Regions from separate parts of the Homo sapiens genome. Here region 2 is linked to region 1. Evidence: fine-mapped expression QTL. A gene starts in region 1. The other region holds a variant in brackets. All regions are shown on one strand. Distances are from middle to middle.

Region 1 (5,378 bases):
GCACTTTGGGAGGCTGAGGCGGGTGGATTACCTGAGGTCAGGAGTTCAATACCAGCCTGACCAACATGGTGAAACCCTGTGTCTACTAAAAATACAAAAATTAGCTGGGTGTGGTGGCACGTGCCTGCAATCTCAGGTACCTGGGAGGCTGAGGCAGGAGTCTTGCTTGAACTGGGGAGGCCGGAGGTTGCAGTGAGCTGAGATTGCACCATTGCACTCCAGCCTGGGCAACAAGAGCAAAACTCCGTCTCAAAAAAAAAAAAAAAAAAAAAAAAAAAAAAAAAAAAAAAGATGTGTTTTTAGGACATATGCTCAGTTAACTAGGCCAGTCACAAAAAGACAAATACTGCATGATTCCACTTATATGAGGTATCTAAAGTAATCAAACTCAGGAACATAAAGAAGAATAGTGATTGTCAGGGACTAGGGGGAGGGGGAAATGGAAGGTGTTAAACAACAGATGTAGTTTCAGTTTTGCAAGATGAAAAAGTTCTAGAGATCTGTTGTACAACAATATGCATATAGTTAACACTACTGTATTCTACACTTAAAAATGATTAAGATGGTAAATTTCATGTGTTTCTTACCATAATTTTTTTTAAGTATTTTTTTGGGCACGAGAGGTAATATGAGAGAGATGGCCAGAAGACCACCTACTGAGCCTAGTCTGAGGACAGGGGTGAGCACAGGGATAGGTTTGAATTTCTTTTTCTTTTCTTTTTTTTTTTTGGAGACGGAGTCTCGCTCAGTCGCCCAGGCTGGAGTCAAGCGGCGCGATCTCGGCTCACTGCGACCTCTGCCTCCCGGGTTCACGCCATTCTCCTGCCTCAGCCTCCCGAGTAGCTGGGACTACAGGCGCCCGCCACTACGCCCGGTTAATTTTTCTGTATTTTTAGTAGAGACGGGGTTTCACCGTGTTAGCCGGAATGGTCTCCATCTCCTGACCTCGTGATCCGCCCGCCTCGGCCTCCCAAAGTGCTGGGATTGCAGGCGTGATCCGCAGCGCCCTGCCTTTTTTTTTTTTTTTTTTTTTTTGAGACAGAGTTTTGCTCTGTCGCTCAGGCTGGAGTGCAGTGGCGCGATCTCTGCTCACTGCAACCCACGCCTCCCGGGTTCAAGCGATTCTCCTGCCTCAGCCTCCTAAGTAGCTGGGATTACAGGTGTGCGCCACCACGCCCGGCTAATTTTTTGTATCTTAGTAGAGATGGGGTTTCACCGTGTTAGCCAGGATGGTCTCGATCACCTGACGTCGTGATCCACCCGCCTCAGCCTCCCAAAGAGCTGGTATTACAAGCGTGAGCCACCGCGCCCGGCCTTAATTTCAAAAGGTAATAGAGCTAACCAGTCAACACTTCCTTCCCAATCCTTTCTCTTTTGGGTACAGGTGAGTATAAAATCTTACCAACTATCATAGTTAACAAACAAACCATAGCAAAATATGTTTCTATGCTTTTTCTCTTGAGAGCAAAGGACATGGGTATCCTTTCTTAGACGGCTTCTAGGACTTAAGCCAGGAAGAGAACTTGCGTCTCCTACGTCTCTGGAAGGCGTCTCTGGAAGGTGTCCCTTCTTCAATAGACAGAACTAAAACAGAAAGTTCCCTTGACCAAAGCGAAGCAAGCGAGGACAAGGTGGCCACCTGGGTGACTACAACCCCCAGCATGCACTGCTCCTTCTAGGGCGCAGCGACGAACGAAGACGCATTACTTCTGCGATGGGAACGGGGTAGAGGAGCGCGACTACACATCCCAGGATGCAAAGCGCCCCAACTCTAGTCACAACCTGGCTTGCTTTCTGGCTGGCGTTCCCCGCCAAAGGGACACTAGGGGAGGGGATTGTTTCGGTTGGGAATCCCCGAAGTCTACTGGACCGTGACATTTCGAAAGAGGAAGGAAAGTGGAGGAAAGCTGTTTCACTGTAATTCAAAGTAGTTCCCGCGCAGGGTGGCGAGGAGTTATGGGCCCCTTCCATAATTTATTGTTCCTCAAAGGCAATGCCAAGCCCCACTGGTCGCAGCCCTCCAGGGCAGGTGGGAAGTACGTGAAGCCCCAAATCGAAGTTATCAGCCTCTCCCTATTGGCCCTCGCCTCGAGCGCAGGCGCGAGGGCTCTGACTCCGGTCCCCTGGGCCTGGTGAGCGGCAATTGGCCAAAGTCCGCGAAGTAGGAGGCCGGATTGGTAGTTGCTAGCAGGAGCCTGATTTCTTCCTCGACTTCTGCAAGTGATAGAGTGTGATTGGTTTAAATCCGCGGGCACCTGTCGGTGATTGGGTAGAAGCCACAGGCGGGGCGCGGCCATTGGCTGGCTCTGGGGCCATCCCTCCTCGGGCGGGCAGCGAATGATGAAATGGGAACGGGGAGGGGAAAGGCCGCGACGTGAGCGCGCGACCTCCGGCGCCATTTTGTAGAGAAACAAGCGGAGTTAACCGAAGAGGGGGTCGAGGAGAGCCGGAGTCGGGGACCCAGGAGTTTCCTGTGTCCAGCGCTGCCGGAGCCGCCTGAGGTGAGGCGGGTTGGCGTCAGGGGCTAGGGTAGGGTGGCGGTGTCAGCTTGGGAACGCGAGAGCCGGTGGGAGGAGGAACAGGGGTGGACCTGGGGCCACTGGAAGCGTTTCCCGGAGCTCTAGGGAGTGAGAGGCAGCCGGGACGGGGAAGTGGGACGAGGCGGGAGAGGGCGGACTCTTCTCCACACGGCTCTCGGAGGCTTCGCGCTCTGAAGATGAGAGGCCAGCGAGAAGGCTCCAGGAAGCGGAGGGTAGAGCGCGGGGTGAGACCCATGGTGGTCTCTGTCCCGGGCCTGGAGGCTCAGGGGGCGGCAGCGGCGGCAGTTCGTGTCGCTGGGCCTGGCTTCGCGCGGGTTGCACCCCTCTGAGACCTCCACGACCTCCTTAACTACTGTTTCTGTCTCTGCTCCCTGATGGTTGCAGTGGGCATCGGCTTCCGAGGCCTAGGGCTTCTGGCGGGGGGGACCGTGTTTGGAGTTTTTGCATGTTTCCAGTTCTTCTCCGTGTACTCGGAGCTGCCACTCTCCCCGTCTTACGCCCCCAGCACGTTGTCAAAGCCCCCCAGGTTTCGGGTGTCCCCGGATGGGAAGGGCGGGCGGGAGCAAGCACTTCCTTATTACTTGCTACAGGTTTTGTTCCACTCGCGCGCCTGGGCGCTCACACTTTCTTTGAAGTTGGCCCCCACCTACTCGGTCCGGTGTCTGCAGTAGTGGCGGTCCTGCTCACCCAGGACAAGTGTCCCGCTAGTGAGCTGAGCACTTGTAGGCCTCAAGGCTGATAAGATCCACGGCAGGTCTTGTAGAGGTACTTAAGGCCAAACACAAATAATACTTTTTCAGTACCACCTCCTTTGCAGAATTCACCCAAGAGGGCTCACAGATACTAACTCCCCGAGGAGTAAGCTTTGTAGATTAAAAAAGAATGCTTGACATCTGTGCGTTTGAAAATGTTGTATTTAAAATAAACTTTATGACAAACTTTTCCCATGAAGTTAATCAAATGTCACATTTCTTAGGACTCTAATAAAGTCTGTTTTCTTCCTGAAAACTGAGTAACAATGCTTAACCTACCCTGCCGATTTCTCTACAATTCGATAGCCTGTGACTACTTGGGTTTTTTTTTTTTTTTAAGTCAGTGATTGAGTGAATATAATTATACTGTTTGAAACAATGCCGAACGTTTTCCTTATGACAGCCCCTTTGATAGGAATAGGGAATACATGGATTAAAAAAATGAGGGAAGGCAAGTAAAATATTAGGAGGAAGGTCAAACAGATTAAGAACAATTTTTTTCTATAGGTACTTGGGTTTAATACTTAAGTGATCTGTGGTCCCGGTTGGTATTCCTACCCTTTTAAAGATTGGCAGCAGAGTATTTTAGCTATTAAGAAGACATGTGGTAACAGTTTAAATAATTATGTTTTAGGATACTGCAAATTGTTACCTTGTCTAAGGAGAATATGCATTGATGATACATGGTTTTAGGTGGCTAGCTGTGCTTTGACTGAAATGATAGCATGTTGATAAAACTAGTTTGGAGAGTTAGTTCCTTTTCAACAAGTGTGGGTTCCCCAAGTCTTAGTGGAAACAAGTCTAGAATCGACTGGGCGCGGTGGCTCACGCCTGTAATCCCAGCACTTAGGGAGGCCAAGGTAGGTGAATCACCAGAGGTCAGGAGTTCGAGACCAGCCTGGCCAACATGTCACAACCGCGTCTCTACTAAAAATACAAAAATTAGCCGGGCGTGGTGGCAGGTGCCTGTAATCCCAGCTACTTGGGAGGCTGAGGCAGGAGAATTGCTTGAACCCGGGAGGCGGAGGTTGCAGTGAGCCGAGATAGAGCTACTGCACTCCAGCCTGGGGGACGGGGAGACTCCGTCTCAAAAAAAAGTCTAGAATGAAGGCGCAAAGACATGTCTATTTGTAACTGAAAATATTTCCTTTTCTTACCTAAGATTGTAATCTTAGAAGTTTTAAGGTACGGTTTTGTGGCATTACGGTGGAAAAGAATTGAAATGTGCTCTTTTTGGTTCCCAGCTTAACACCCCGGGTTCATTTTCTTTTTTTCTAGTTTCTGAATTTCTCTTCGGGGTTTAGATCCTAGTCTCTTTAACATAGATGTTGTCAAGCTAAATAATAAGACATCCTTCTTATTTGGAGTCAAGTCATTAAAAAAAGCTATGAAAACAAATGGAAATGCTTGCCATCTTTTCAAAACATGCTTTAAAGTCTGATTTCAAATTACCTTGCATGTTACTTTTTCTGAGTATGTTTTAGGATAGATTCTGATCTGGTTATGAGAAACTTTTTTTTTTTTTTTTTTTTTGAGATGGAGTCTCGCTCTGTCACCAGGCTGGAGTGCAGCAGCACACAATCTCGGTTCACTGCAACCTTTGCCTCCAGGGTTCAAGCAATTCTGCCTCAGCCCCTCGAGTAGCTGGGACTACAGGTGCCCGCCACCACACCCAGCTAATTTTTGTATTTTAATAGAGACAGGGTTTCACCATGTTGGCCAGGATGGTCTCGAACTCTTAACTTCATGATCCACCCGCCTCACCCTCCCAAAGTGCTGGGATTACAGACGTGAGCCACGGTGCCCAGCCGAGAAGCTTTCTTTTTAACCAGTTTGAATTTATGAACTTGATTATTTCTTTCTGTGTAATAACAAACACGTCTTTGGTACCCAATACCAGAGAATGGAATTTGTCCACAATAATTCTAATTGAGTGCTGTCATATTTTGGGACTAATTTTTTTGGCCCAGGCAAGTGGCTCAAGCCTGTATCCTAGCTTTTTGGGAGGATGAGGGAGGAGGATGCTTGAGACTAGGAGTTAGAGACCAGCCTGGGCAACATGGTGAGACCCTGTCTTTACAAAAAA
Region 2 (5,378 bases), 77 kb after region 1:
ACAGGGTTCCACCATGTTGGCCAGGCTGGTCTTGAACTCCTGACCTCGGGTGATCCACCCACCTCGGCCTCCCAGAGTGCTGGGATTATAGGTGTGAGCCACTGGGCCCAGCCAAAGCCTCTCTTTTTTAATATAAGTGGTAGGAAAACTAAAATGAGAACAGAGGTTTTTTGGTTGGTTATTTATGAGGTATACTTCGTACAGTAGAAGTCTTCCCTTTAGGTGTATAGTTCTTTGAATTTTGACAAATTTATACAGTTGTGTAACTACCACCACAATCAAGATACAGAATATTTTGGAACTCCTGGCCTCAAGTGATCTTCCTGCCTCCCACAGTGATGGGATTATAGGCATAAACTACCATGCCTGGCTGATGCAGAATATTTTCATTATCTCCCAAGAGGTTTCCTTGTTCCCCTTTGTAGTTAGTCCCCTTCCCTGACTTCCAATCTCTGATAATCTCTAAAGTTTTTCTAGAATGCCATTTACACAGAGTCATACAAATATGTAGTTTTTTGAGACTTACGTTACTACGTTTCAGTAGTCTGTTTTTTTTTTTACAGCTGTGTAGTATTCTACTATATGAGTTGACTACAAATTATTTTTCCATTCGTATGTTGGTGAAAATTTGAATTGTTTCCAGAGAAGTGGCTCGTTTTAATCTATTTTTAAGTAAAATATAGCCTTTAAAAATCAGAGGTAGTGTATTTTCTGATGTAAATCCTGTGAAAATCATAAGTATTTTCTCCTTCTATTTTTGTTTTCTTCACTTTGACATTTTCTTCAAATAAGTTATTCATAGGTAAGATGGAAAAAAATGACCTAGATTAGCATTTGGACAAAAACATTTTGTTAGTGATGCTTCTGTTCTGACATGAAATGATGGTAGAATAATTTTGTTGGCAGATTGAAGGACTATCCCCAGTATTGTCAGCATTTGGCTTCTATCAGTCACTTTATGCAATTTCCACATCATTTACAGGAGGTAAGTGCCCTCTGTAACTAAAACCCAAATAGCTATGTAGTATTTGGAGGGTTTAATATTTTGGCTTTTTTTTGTAGACTTGATAGTAATGGCATTAAGATTTCTTAATGATTGGCATGATATAGGTACACATATCTTTTGTTGAGGTTGCTCATTTTGTGGCCTTACAAGAGAACATGAAAAAATAATCATTCTTGGATTATCTTTTCTAAGTAGCAGGCTTACCTCAAAAACTTTTTACTCATTCTTTTAACCTGTAATGCAGTTGAAGAATAAACAGTTTTACTAAGAGAATCTTTATCTTAGATAAAGTACAGACACCCTGCCTGATGCTAAAAGGGAATTGGAGTGGGAATCTTGTGTATAAAAATCTGAAATTTTTGAGTTAATATGAGCCAAAACTGTTACACATAAGACTTAGATCATGTTTATTAAAAATACAGGCTTCTTACCACCTCGTTAGATTCCTTTGAGGTGTGGTTTTTGTTTTGTTTTTCTTTTTTTTTTGGGAGGGGGAGATGAAATCTTGCTCTGTTGCCCAGGCTAGAGTGAGGCAATCTTGGTTCACTGCAACATTGTCCTCCTGGGTTCAAGTGATTCTCCCACCTCAGCTTCCTGAGTAGCTGCGATTACAGGCACCTGCCATCATGCCTGGCTAATTTTTGTATTTTTGTAGAGACGAGGTTTCAACATGTTGGCCAGGCTGGTCTTGAACTCCTGACCTCAGGTGATCCGCCCACCTCCGCCCTGCAAAGTGCTGGGATTACAGGTGTGAGCCACCGCGCCCGCCTGAGATGCTTATTTAAAAGGAGTCAGTCCCTGGGAAAATAGACGTAAGGAATATACATTTTAAAAACCATTTTGTATGATTGTTATTATTACTGAAATTTGAGAAGCATTGTTTCAGTGACTGATTTTAGGTTAATTGGTAAGCATTATCTATACCTTTGTCTTGGTTTTGGTCAACATCAGTTTATATAGAACAGGAAAGTTGGTTAATTGACTTTATTTTTAACATGCAGTAGGCAACTTTATAAGATCTTATTTTAAGGAATCAGGAAGATCAGAATTTGAACCTACTTGATATTCTGTATTTTAATTTAGTTCAGTGTTCTCTACCTCATCCTTCTAGGTTTATTAGGAGGGCAGGGTTATTGTAATGACTTAATCTCTGGGAATGTGGAGTATATTCATTCAAGTGAGTGGATTGAGACAAATTAAGAGACAGGAATATAGAGCTTGAAAGACTTGGAGAAAGAGTGAGATGGCAGGGGAGTGATCACTCAAAACTAGTCCCTAGCACCCACTGTAGCAAGATAGCCAGAGAGAGAGAGAGATCATCACTTTCTGTACTTTATCAGCGTAAAGGGCTATACTTTCTTCTGAGACTCTTTCCTACTTGAGAAATGTCCCTCTAAAAATAAAACTGTTGCATACATAATTGGTAGGTTTAGTTCTGCTAGGTAAGGACTGTTGAAATAGCTTCAGGATCCTTATCACTCTAAATTGTGGGGATGGGCTATGTAAAGTGAGTTTTTTTTTTTTCGTAATAACAGCTTTATTGTGATAATAACTCATACTACCATGGTTTTTGTTTTGTTTTTTAAGGCCTTTGGTTTCTCATTGCTGCCTAATTAGAAAACAGATGAGTTTCCTGTATGAATTATTAAGACTTTTAAAGTTTGCGTTTTTAAAGAAGTTTAAAGGCATTTATATGCAGGTATCTGGGGCTGCTTCTTTAGAAGTTGTTTTGCTGTAGTTCTCTCATAAATACTAAGATTTTATCGCTGAAGTTCATGGAATCTACTTATGTATTAGTGCCAGGGTATGGGGCAAAGAGTATGTGAGCTAGATGAACCAAAAGAGCACTCAGACATGTTTTTTACCCTCTCAGAAAAGAGGGACGTATAATCCAGACTTAGCAATTAAGGTTAACTCTTTTTCCTCTCCCTACCCTTTTAGTATATTGAGTATGGACAGCAGTCTAGAGATCCTCCTGTGAAAATGCAAGGCTCTATCACAACCCCTGGAAGTATTGCACTGGCTCAGGCCCAGGCTCAGGCCCAGGTTCCAGCAAAAGCTCCTCTTGCTGGTCAAGTTAGCACTATGGTAACCACCTCAACAACTACCACTGTTGCTAAAACGGTTACGGTCACCAGGCCAACTGGAGTCAGCTTTAAGAAAGATGTGCCAGTAAGTAGATCTATCTTTTTTCTCTTCCAGGATTTATGATTATATTGTAATAATCAGTGGTGAACATGTATTAGAATTTTATCATAACACATGCCTACTAAAAAAGATATAAAAGACTGACAT[G/T]TCTTCCTTTGTATCTCCCATCCTTATATTTCCCAGAGGCAAACATATTAATAGTTCACTATTCTTGCCTACATTTCTAATACACAGTCATACCATGTGTATTTTTTAACACTAAATCTGTATACATTATTGGATTTTTTTCAGGGAAGCATTTCAACTTATTTGCCTTATGTACTTTATTTTTTTTTTTTAGCCTTCTATTAATACTACAAATATAGATACGTTGCTTGTGGCCACAGATCAAACTGAGAGAATTGTGGAGCCCCCAGAAAATATCCAGGAGAAAATTGCTTTTATTTTCAATAATCTCTCACAGTCAAATATGACACAAAAGGTGAGCATGCTGTCATAGTTTATAAATGCCTTCTTTTTTCCTTAATGGACTAAAGGATGTATAGTTGGCCCTTTTACATACTCACTTTAAAGGTAGAGGTAATAAACTCAAAGGGAATATGTATATTTAACTAGTGGGTTTGGTAGACATTAAATAGTACCAGTTTTTAAGGTTTTGTTTTGCAGCAAGTTATAAGCTTTTTGAAATAAGCTTAATGTTCTCATGGTGATAGAAAGTTTCATTTGTACTAGTCATTAGTCATACCTCATTTTCTCCCAGAGACTATTCAGAGTATTTATTACAACCTAATAACTGAGGCAAACTTTGTGAAAAGCATAAAGAATGCATGCTACTTGCCCCTCAGATTACATGGTAAGACAGTATAGTTGACCCTTGAGCAACATGGGCGTTAGGGTTGCCAATCCTGTATGTAGCCAAATCCTGTTATAACTTTTTACTCCCCCAGAACTTAACTGTTAACAGCCTACTATTTTTTCTGCCATGCAGAAGCCTTACTGTGATAAAACAAATAGTTGATTAACACCTATCTTATATGCATATAATACTGTATTCTTAGAATAAAATAAACTAGAAAAAAGAATAAAATAAACTAGAAAAACTATGAAGGAAAATTATAAGGAAGAAAAGATATATTTACCATCTGTTAAGTGGAAATGGATTATCATACAGGTCTTTAACTTTATATTTAATAGGCTGAGGAGGAGAAGAGGAGGTCTTGGTGTCTCCGAGGTAGTGGAGGTATTAATAGAAGAAAATCTACATTTAATTTTACTCTATGTAGTTCAAATCCTTGTTCAAGGGTCAACTAACTGTACTTGGAAACGCCAGAGTTAGCTAAGGATTCCTGTAGATGGAAATTTAGGAAAACATAGTTCTGGAATTTTCCCCATTCTTGGTTACACTGTAGGTATGTTAATGGCAGCTTATAGATTAGTAATTTATGTGGAGATGGGGTACTACATGTTTTATAATTTTAAAGCTGAAAATAGCCATAGATGTTTCAGTCCCAATCACGTATGGGTTGAGTTGTGATTGACTATGGAATTGAGCATACTTTTCTTCATAGCATCTATCTGGTGTGAAGGAAAGTCATTCTTTAGCATCTAGTTAGTTTTGCAAGGAGCCATGTGCTGTATAGTATGGTTCATAGAAACCAAGTGTTATTTTATCATAGTGTAATTCTGTGCTTCCCATGTCGTATTGACCGGCTAGGTTGAAGAGCTAAAGGAAACGGTGAAAGAAGAATTTATGCCTTGGGTTTCACAGTATCTGGTTATGAAGAGAGTCAGTATTGAGCCAAACTTTCATAGCCTGTATTCAAACTTCCTTGACACGCTGAAGAATCCTGAATTTAACAAGATGGTTCTGAATGAGACCTACAGAAACATTAAAGTAAGAGTTGGTTCTTATATTTCCTTTAATTATTGCTTTGAATTTGGAAATATTTGATTATATAGGTAGGATTTTTGCTATTTTTCCATATATATTGTCAATATTAGGTACCTCTGGAAATTGCTGTAGATTTTGTTTCTTATATGGAACTAAATTTTATGCAGAACTTAAATTTATAGGCATACCCTGTGCCTTTTCTTTGAAAGTAACCACTATTATGAATTGTTTTTGTCATGCCATGCATGATTTTAGAACTTTACCACTGTTATACATAAGCAGCATAGTATTGGTTAGCATATTCTGTATGGTGTCGCCCTCTGTACATCCTTT

The links.
Region 2: its variant is fine-mapped to the expression of CNOT1 in whole blood (TOPMed, PIP above 0.99).

Annotation. Positions count from the first base shown.
Region 1 is chr16:58,626,851-58,632,228 of GRCh38, reverse strand. CNOT1 (CCR4-NOT transcription complex subunit 1) reads left to right here and starts at 2,403. Exons shown (of 49, transcript NM_016284.5): 1 at 2,403-2,501. RefSeq lists enhancers at 1,536-2,025, 2,316-2,525, 1,974-2,649, 2,650-3,326.
Region 2 is chr16:58,549,389-58,554,766 of GRCh38, reverse strand. It overlaps CNOT1 (CCR4-NOT transcription complex subunit 1), which reads left to right. Exons shown (of 49, transcript NM_016284.5): 22 at 907-985; 23 at 2,948-3,178; 24 at 3,495-3,635; 25 at 4,869-5,048. Among named protein-coding and RNA genes, the nearest start is that of SNORA46, 3.4 kb to the right of the region's middle. The variant G/T (reference allele first, on the strand shown) is at 3,302.